Regions from separate parts of the Homo sapiens genome. Here all the other regions are linked to region 3. Evidence: fine-mapped expression QTL. A gene starts in region 3. Each other region holds a variant in brackets. All regions are shown on one strand. Distances are from middle to middle.

Region 1 (2,674 bases), 23 kb before region 3:
GAGAGGCGGGCTAGTGGCTTGTACTATAGCATAGCCTGCCTTTGCTGGTGTGTGGCGATTAGGCCTGGTGGAACTGCCATCAATAAATCAAGCGTGATCAGGGTGAGGAACAGGAAAGAAGGAAATTTGGGGAAATGGGGTTAATGTCAGGTGGATCAGAGAGATACAGTCATGGGGGTCAGGTGTGGTATCAGGAATAATGTGGGGGGCCAGATTGAAGTCCGGGCCAGGAACAATGGTAATTGTGGGACTTAAAGAGTGAGTACAGCTGAAGGAGCCGGGGAGCAGAAAGTATATGCTTCAGGTATGAGGAAGAAAATAGATTTTGGAAGTTATGAGAAATGTAGAGAGTGAGTTGAGCATAGTTTGCGATTTTTAGGGCCTCTAAAAGTATTAATGCAGCGGCACCCGCTGTATGCAGACATGAGGGCTAGGCTAAAACATTAAGGTCAAATTGTTTGGACAGAAAGGCTACAGGGTGCGGTCCTGGCTCTTGTATAAGAATTCTGACCACACTAACCATACCTAGGAAGAAAAGGAGTTGTTTTGTAAGGGATTGAGGTTTGGGGGATTAATCGGACACGAGCAGCAGGGGGAGCACCTGTGTTTTTATGAAGAATTATGCTGAGATAGGTAACAGATGAGGATGAAATTTGGGCTTGATTGAAGTAATGGGGGCTGTCTGTGACGCCTTGCAGCAGTACAGCCCAGGTAATTTGCTGAGCCTAATGGGTGTCAGGGTCAGTCCAAGTGAAAGCGAAGAGAGGCTGGGATGATGGGAGCAAAGGAATAGTAAAGAAAGCATGCTTGAGATCCAGAACATAATAATGGATTGTGGAGGGAGGTATGGAGGATAGGAGAGTATATGGGTTTGACACCATAGGGTGGATAGGCAAAACAATTTGGTTGATAAGGCACAGATCCTGAACTAACTTGTAAGGCTTGTCTGGTTTTAGGACAGGCAAAATGGGGGAATTGTAAGGAGAGTTTATAGGCTTTAAAAGGCCATGCTGTAGCAGGCGAGTGATAACAGGCTTTAATCCTTTCAAAGCATGCTGTGGGATGGGATATTGGCATTGAACAGGGTAAGGGTGATAAGGTTTTAATGAGATGGTAAGGGGTGCATGATCAGTCGCCAAGGAGGGAGTAGAGGTATCTTATACTTGTGGGTTAAGGTGGGGGAATACAAGAGGAGGATGCAAAGGAGGCTTTGGATTGGGAAGAAGGGTGGCAATGAGATGTAGCTGTAGTCCAGGAATAGTCAGGGAAGCAGATAATTTAGTTAAAGTGTCTCGGCCTAATAAGGGAACTGGGCAGGTGGGGATAACTAAAAGGAGTGCTTAAAAGAGTATCATCTAAGTTGGCACCAGAGTTGGGGAGTT[C/T]TAAGAGGTTTAGAAGCCTGGCCGTCAATACTCACAACAGTTATGGAGGCAAGGGAAACAGGCCCTTGAAAAGAAGGTAATGTGGAGTGGGTAGCCTCCGTATTGATTAAGGCGACGGACTTACCTTCCACTGTGAGAGTTACTCGAAGCTCGGCGTCTGTGATGGTCTACGGGGCTTTCGAGGTGATCAGGCAGCGTCAGTCTTCAGCCGCTAAGCCGAGAAGGAGTCAGTCAGAGAGCCTTGGGCCAGAGTTCCAGGGGCTCTGGGAGTGGCTGCCAGGTGAGTTGAACAGTCCGATTTTCAGTGGGGTCCCACACAGATGGGACGCGGCTTAGGAGGAATCCCGGGCTGCCGGCATTCCTTGGCCCAGTGGCCAGATTTCCGGCACGTGTAGCAAGCTCCTGGGGAAGGAGGTTCTGGAGGAATACCTGGCTGCTGTGGTTCAGGCATTTGGAAGTTCTTGTGTGCTGGAGATGTGGCTGGGGTTTGTCTCACAGTGGAGGCAAGGAATTGCAACTTTTTTTCTGTTACTGTACACCTTGAAGGTGAGGTTAATTAAATCCTGTTGTGGGGTTTGAGGGCCAGATTCCAATTTTTGGAATTTTATTTAATGTCGGGAGCACATTGGGTAATAAAATGTATTTTGAGAATAAGATGGCCTTTTGACCTTTTAGGGTCTAGGGCTGTAAAGCGTCTCAAGGTTGCAGCCAAACAAGTCATGAACTGGGCTGGATTTTTATATTTGATGAAAAAGAGCCTAAACGCTATCTGATTTGGGATAAAGAAAAAGGAGCATTCACCTTGACTATGCCTTTAGCTTCAGCCACCTTTTTAAGAATAAATTGCTGGACAGGTGGGGAAGGGCTAGTCACTGAACGAAACTATAAGCCAGACAGGGTGTGAGGAGGGGAGGTGATAAAAGGATTATAGGGTGGAGGAGGGGAGGCTGAGGAAGAATTGGGACCTAGCTTGGCCTGGAGAGGAGGGGAGAGGTCAGATGGGTCTGTAGAAAAGGAAGATTAGAAAGACTCAGTGACGCTTGGGGTTGGGACTGAGGGGACAGGCGGGAGGGAAAGAAGGAAGATTTGGTACGAGTTGCATTGGGCACAGAGACTAGGAAGGGACTGATGTGTAAAAGAATGCCTGGACATCAGGCACCTCAGACCATTTGTCTATTTTACAGCAAGAATTATTTAGATTTTGCAGGATGGAAAAATTCAAAGTGCCATTTTTTGGCTATTTGGAACTACTGTTGAGTTTGTATTGGGGTCAAGCAGCATTGCAGAAGAAA
Region 2 (2,674 bases), 800 kb before region 3:
TTGCCCAGGCTGGTCTCGAACTCCTGGACTCAACCGATTCTCCTGTCCTGGCCTCCCAAACTGTTGGGATTACAGCCATAAGCCACTGTATCTGACTTATTTTTTATTCTTTTTTATGGTTGTGAAAGAATTCAGGATTCTTAGAAGGGTCAGAGGCTCCTTGATGAAGATTGGGACTGGCTAAGTAGGTTATTGGATAAAAGGAACTGTTGAACAGGAAACTTGACTGCTTTTTTGTATGTCCGGGGCTGCAGCCACAGTTATTCTTCCAGGATACACATAGAAATGCTTAGAGCAATGGTTCTTTGTGCAATTTTCTGTCATGCATTCTGCTTTGGGGGTGGCCCATGGTTCCCTTGTAATGTTGGTTAAGACCTCCTACGCTTAGAGTCCAAATATTATACTTGTTATACGTATTACAAATGACGTAATGTTATTTACTGAAATTCCCATTTTATACCTGTGTTAGTGGTGCAAACTCATTTCCATGGCAACTGAACGTCTAGGCAGGAAAATAGTTCTAAGTATAAAGAGATGAGGGGAGAGGGTTGGCACCTTTGTTTATTGTTTATTGCAATGTGCAAAATCCCCAGATATTTAGAGGACATTTTGAGGAAAATAATCTTAAATGTACAAACTACGAATGTAGTTTGTAAATCTTTATCACTTGCGGAAAGTAGGTGAGTAACTGGCAGTAAAATCTTCCCAAACGAGGCCAGGCACAGTGGCTCATGCCTGTAATTCCAGCTCTTTTGGAAGATCAAAGTGGGAGGATCGCTTGAGGCCAGGAGTTCCAAGACCAGCCTGGGCAACCTAGGGAGGCTCTGTCTCTATAAAAGATAGAAAAATGAGCTGGGCATGGTAGTGTGTGCCTGTAGTCCCAGCTACTTGGGAGGCTGAGGTGGGAGGATTGCTTGAGCCCAAGAGTTTGAGGCTGCACTGAGCTAGCATCAGGGCACTGGGTAACAGAGTGAGACTATGTCTGTAAAAAAAACAAAAAAACAAAAAAACTTCCCAAACAGACCCTAGGGAGGGGGAATAATGCTTTGAAAAATGGAATATGATTTTAGCCAATACCCGCAGCATCTTAAAAGATCCCTCTGAGGACAGCTGTCAGCTTCTCCAGATTTGGTTGTTTTGTGGGCTTATGAGGTTGTGGTGACTGGCAAGTGGCGGGAGCAAGACAAGATGGACGTTTGGATCTTTTTTCCGTACCTTTATTAGAAGCAGAGATGCCATTTCCCC[A/G]TTCTCTTTTCTCCAAGTCACTGTAAAGGCGTTGCCTCACTCCCAAAGACCAGTCATGTTTTCCGTGTCTCGGTAGGTGACTTACAATAGTTGGGTCTCACGGGGTGATGAATGACAGTGTAACTGGCAAATCTTGTGTCAACAAAGCCATGATGGGCACCTGGAACTGGAGGAAACAATTTCTTAAGCTAGAACAGCGGTGGGCGAGGAATACTTGAGCATTTCACTCTTTTAGAGAGGAAGGAATACTTGAGTATTTCACTCTTTAGAGAGTGATGCCTTCTCAGCTTTGGTGCTAGTAACTACATCTTAGTCTTTTAGCTGAGTTGGAAAGTTTGTCTCAAACACACCCATATAACTTAATTTGGGGCTCAAAGTCAGATTCAGCTATTAACAAGTTTGGATCTAAATTCTTGACCTATTTACTGGTCTCTGAATTCCTCTAGTTGATCGACCTTGAAATTCAGAGATCCTGTTAAACCTCGTTTGTTGTCATTGGTGTTGAGAATGACACCAGGTCATCGGTGTTGCAGCAGCCAGGCTGCAACAGGAAATCGGATGCATTTTGGCCCATCACACGTGGTAGACATTCAGTGCTAGTTAGTTACTGGTGAGCAAGGTACCTTCCGATAGTGTAAGCCTTATCGGAGTCCTCTGCAGTCTGTTAGCTGCTGCAGGCTTTTACTACGTGTAGCATCTGAGTTTTCCCTGGCCTCTGCCATCTAAGTAACTATTCATTCTGCACTCACATGGAACCTGTTGCCATTCAGCAGGAAATATTTTTGCAAATATTATCCAAAGGCTGTCTCTTTGCCTCCTTAAAAGCCCCCTTTCCACTTTGCTGTTGCAGGTATGAAGGTCACTGTGCACACATGCTTATGACTGTAGGCGGTGGCCAAGGAGTCTATTGGATAAAGGTGTAGGGCTTTGGAATCAGGAGATGCAGATCGAATCCTGGCCTGTCATTTACTTGCTATATGATTTTGGATAAGTCACAAAACCTCTCGGATCCCCAGTTTTTTTCAGGTGTAAAGTGGGGGTATCACCTGTCTCACAGGGTTATTGTGGGAATGAACTGAGATGAGGCATGTCAGTCAGAGGGCCTTACACAACGGGAGCACTCGGTGGAAGTGGCAGTGGGTTTTCTTTGTATCTGGAGACTCGTTTGTGCATGCCTACCCCCCTTCCCTGCTAAGCCTGGGAAGTGAGGCATTACCGGTGCGTTTACATCAAGGACTGTAGTTGGGAGGTGATGAATCAGACCTTTGGGATCAAGGGCAGTCCTTTGCTGTCCTTGCTTTCTGGGGGCAGAGAGAATGATGGGCTTCTGCCTGCTGTCTCCCAGACTAAATATTTAGCTTTTGCTGTCTGAAGGGTAGGTTTTTCTTGGACTTGGGTGCTATTCACTGTGATCAAACAAAGGTGCTCT
Region 3 (2,674 bases):
AGGGGATGGAAGAGAACTAAATCAGAGACGGAATTCCAGCCTGATCTGCAGAGCAGACACAATGGTCCAGACCTTGCAGAGTCCAGAGGGGCAGATGGGAGGACCACGCACACACGCTGAGCCCTGTGTGGTTGTCGAATTTTGGGAGCAGCCACCAGCCCACAGGGTTTGAATTCCTGTCACACTTCTTACAAGCCGTATGACCTTGGACAAGTGTCTTAACCTTTCTGGGCCTCAGTTTCCTCATTGATAAACTGAGATTTTGCACTTCCATGAGATTGTTGTGAGAGATTCAGTGAATGTAAAGACCTTAGTCCTGGCCGGGTGCGGTGGCTCACGCCTGTAATCCCAGCACTTTGGGAGGCCAAGACAGCAGATCACTTGAGTCCAGGAGTTTGAGACTAGCCTGGCCAACATGGTGAAACCCCATCTCTACTAAAAATACAAAAATTAGCCAGGCATGGTAGTGCACATCTGTAATCCCAGCTACTTGGGAGGCTGAAGCAGGAGAATTGCTTGAACCCTGGAGGTGGAGGCTGCAGTGAGCCAAAATCACGCCACTGCACTACAGCCTGGATGACAGAGTCTGAGACTCCGTCTCAAAAAAATTTTTTTTTTCTTAATTTTTTTTTTATTAATAGAACTGAGGTCTTACTATGCTGACCAGGCTGGTCTCGAACTCCTGGGCTCACGCAATCCTCCCACCTTGGCCTCCCAAAGTGCTGGGATTACAAGCATGAGCCATTGCGTCCGGCTTGTTTTCGGAGTGGGAGCTCGTCTGCTTTTTTAACCTGTCCTTTAGCCTGAGTCATTCATGGACTCTACCATGGCTCTCGATGTGTGAACTCAAACCACCTGTTCATTCCTTGGTCCTGCTTTTGTTCAGGCCCCAGGCTGCCAGCTGGTGTCATCATAACTCACTCATGGGCCAGGGCCGTTCGGACATCCTGAAGTCATTTCTCACGTGAGCCGTGTCCAGCTGCCAGGGCCGGGTGGTCCTGTGCAGGCCGTGGGTGCGGTGTGCGCTGTGGCTGATGGCTGAGTGGCAGCGCTGCTCTTACATAATCAGTTTCTCTCCTCCTTTCTCTTCCTAGAGCCAGATTTCACACTGAGCAGCTGCAGTCGGAGAAATCAGAGAAAGCGTCACCCAGCCCCAGATTCCGAGGGGCCTGCCAGGGACTCTCTCCTCCTGCTCCTTGGAAAGGAAGACCCCGAAAGACCCCCAAGCCACCGGCTCAGACCTGCTTCTGGGCTGCCATGGGACTTGCGGCCACCGCCCCCCGGCTGTCCTCCACGCTGCCGGGCAGATAAGGGCAGCTGCTGCCCTTGGGGCACCTGCTCACTCCCGCAGCCCAGCCACTCCTCCAGGGCCAGCCCTTCCCTGACTGAGTGACCACCTCTGCTGCCCCGAGGCCATGTAGGCCGTGCTTAGGCCTCTGTGGACACACTGCTGGGGACGGCGCCTGAGCTCTCAGGGGGACGAGGAACACCACCATGCCCCGGGGCTTCACCTGGCTGCGCTGTGAGTACTGGGGGGTCCCTAGGGACCTGCATTGGGAGGCCTTGGCCTAGATCCAGGATCTGCCGTAACCATAGCAACCAGGGCATTCTTGCTGGTGAGAAGTTGCGATGCTTCCCAGCCGGACTGCAGACACCCTCTGAGATTCCCACGGCCGCCGTCTGCCCTGTCTGCCGCTCACTTCGGGCTCCGACGGGCAAGCTGGGTGGGCAGTTCTGGCTGGGTGGGCATGGTCCTCAGGGTGGTCTTAGGTCGGGGCAGGCACTGGGGGTAGGTGGCAGCATCTCACCTTTCCAGGCTTGTGGGTGTTGGGGAGCCCCGGGCGGGCAGCAGCGGCCCAGTCCTGGGTATGGCCGGTGGAGGGGGGCAGGGGCTGGTGAAAGTGTCTAGGGACCCAAGACCCACGGCAGAAGAGCAGCCAGATGCCTGGAGAAGGCAGCCTGTTCCCCTCCAACCCTCCCTCCATAACAGAACAGAATTAAAAAGCAGAAAGATAACACTGTTGGTAAAAAGAAAAATAAGTTGAAATGAGGACAGAAAGGAAAAAAAGGATCTGGAAGCCTCTTATGCCTGCTGGCTGGGAGGCCAGACCAAGATCCCCTCAGTCTCCAAGATCCAGTTCAATTGACTCAAATTCAACACATTTTTCCGGTGCCTCCCACGTGCCCACTGCAGAGTCACTGCCATGACAACAAGGACCTTGCTGTCTCGTGCCTCTGTCTCCAACGCCTGGCACAGGGTTGAGTGCTCAGGAACTGTTGGAGGTTTGGGGTATGAGCCTGCGAGGGATTGAAAGAAGAGTTGGGTCCACCCTGGCCCTTGTGGAAATATACAACAAAGGGTTGGGACATTAAGGATGGGTGGAAGGACCCAGCTGGACCCAATGTTCTGGAAACCCCTAGGTCATGAGAAGCAGGGGTGCAGCATGGGGGAGGGGCTACTGGAAATGGTCTAGAAGGTGGGGTGGTGGTCACACAGGTAGACCTGGGGTCATGAGGCCCATGTTCCAGGAAGAGGGGCCAGTGTGAGCAAAGGTTTGGCGGTGGGATGGTGAGGCCAGGCTGGGAGCTGGTTTGGACCCGGCTGGCTGAGGCCTTGAGAGCCAAGCAAAGTGTGCCTCCCTCCCCATAGCAGGCAGCCCTGGAGGATTTGAGA

Evidence for each region. PIP is the estimated chance that this variant, and not a neighbour inherited with it, causes the effect. A credible set is the group of variants that fine-mapping cannot tell apart.
Region 1: its variant is the best candidate, but not a certain one, in a credible set for the expression of IL34 in nucleus accumbens (GTEx, PIP 0.89).
Region 2: its variant is the best candidate, but not a certain one, in a credible set for the expression of IL34 in pancreas (GTEx, PIP 0.63).

Annotation. Positions count from the first base shown.
Region 1 is chr16:70,622,468-70,625,141 of GRCh38, forward strand. It overlaps a transcript of IL34 not described here. Among named protein-coding and RNA genes, the nearest start is that of IL34, 23 kb to the right of the region's middle. RefSeq lists an enhancer at 1-108. The variant C/T (reference allele first, on the strand shown) is at 1,383.
Region 2 is chr16:69,842,872-69,845,545 of GRCh38, forward strand. All of the region lies in intron 6 of WWP2 (WW domain containing E3 ubiquitin protein ligase 2), which reads left to right. Among named protein-coding and RNA genes, the nearest start is that of WWP2, 82 kb to the left of the region's middle. The variant A/G (reference allele first, on the strand shown) is at 1,246.
Region 3 is chr16:70,645,454-70,648,127 of GRCh38, forward strand. IL34 (interleukin 34) reads left to right here and starts at 1,106. Exons shown (of 6, transcript NM_001393494.1): 1 at 1,106-1,522. The coding sequence starts at 1,495.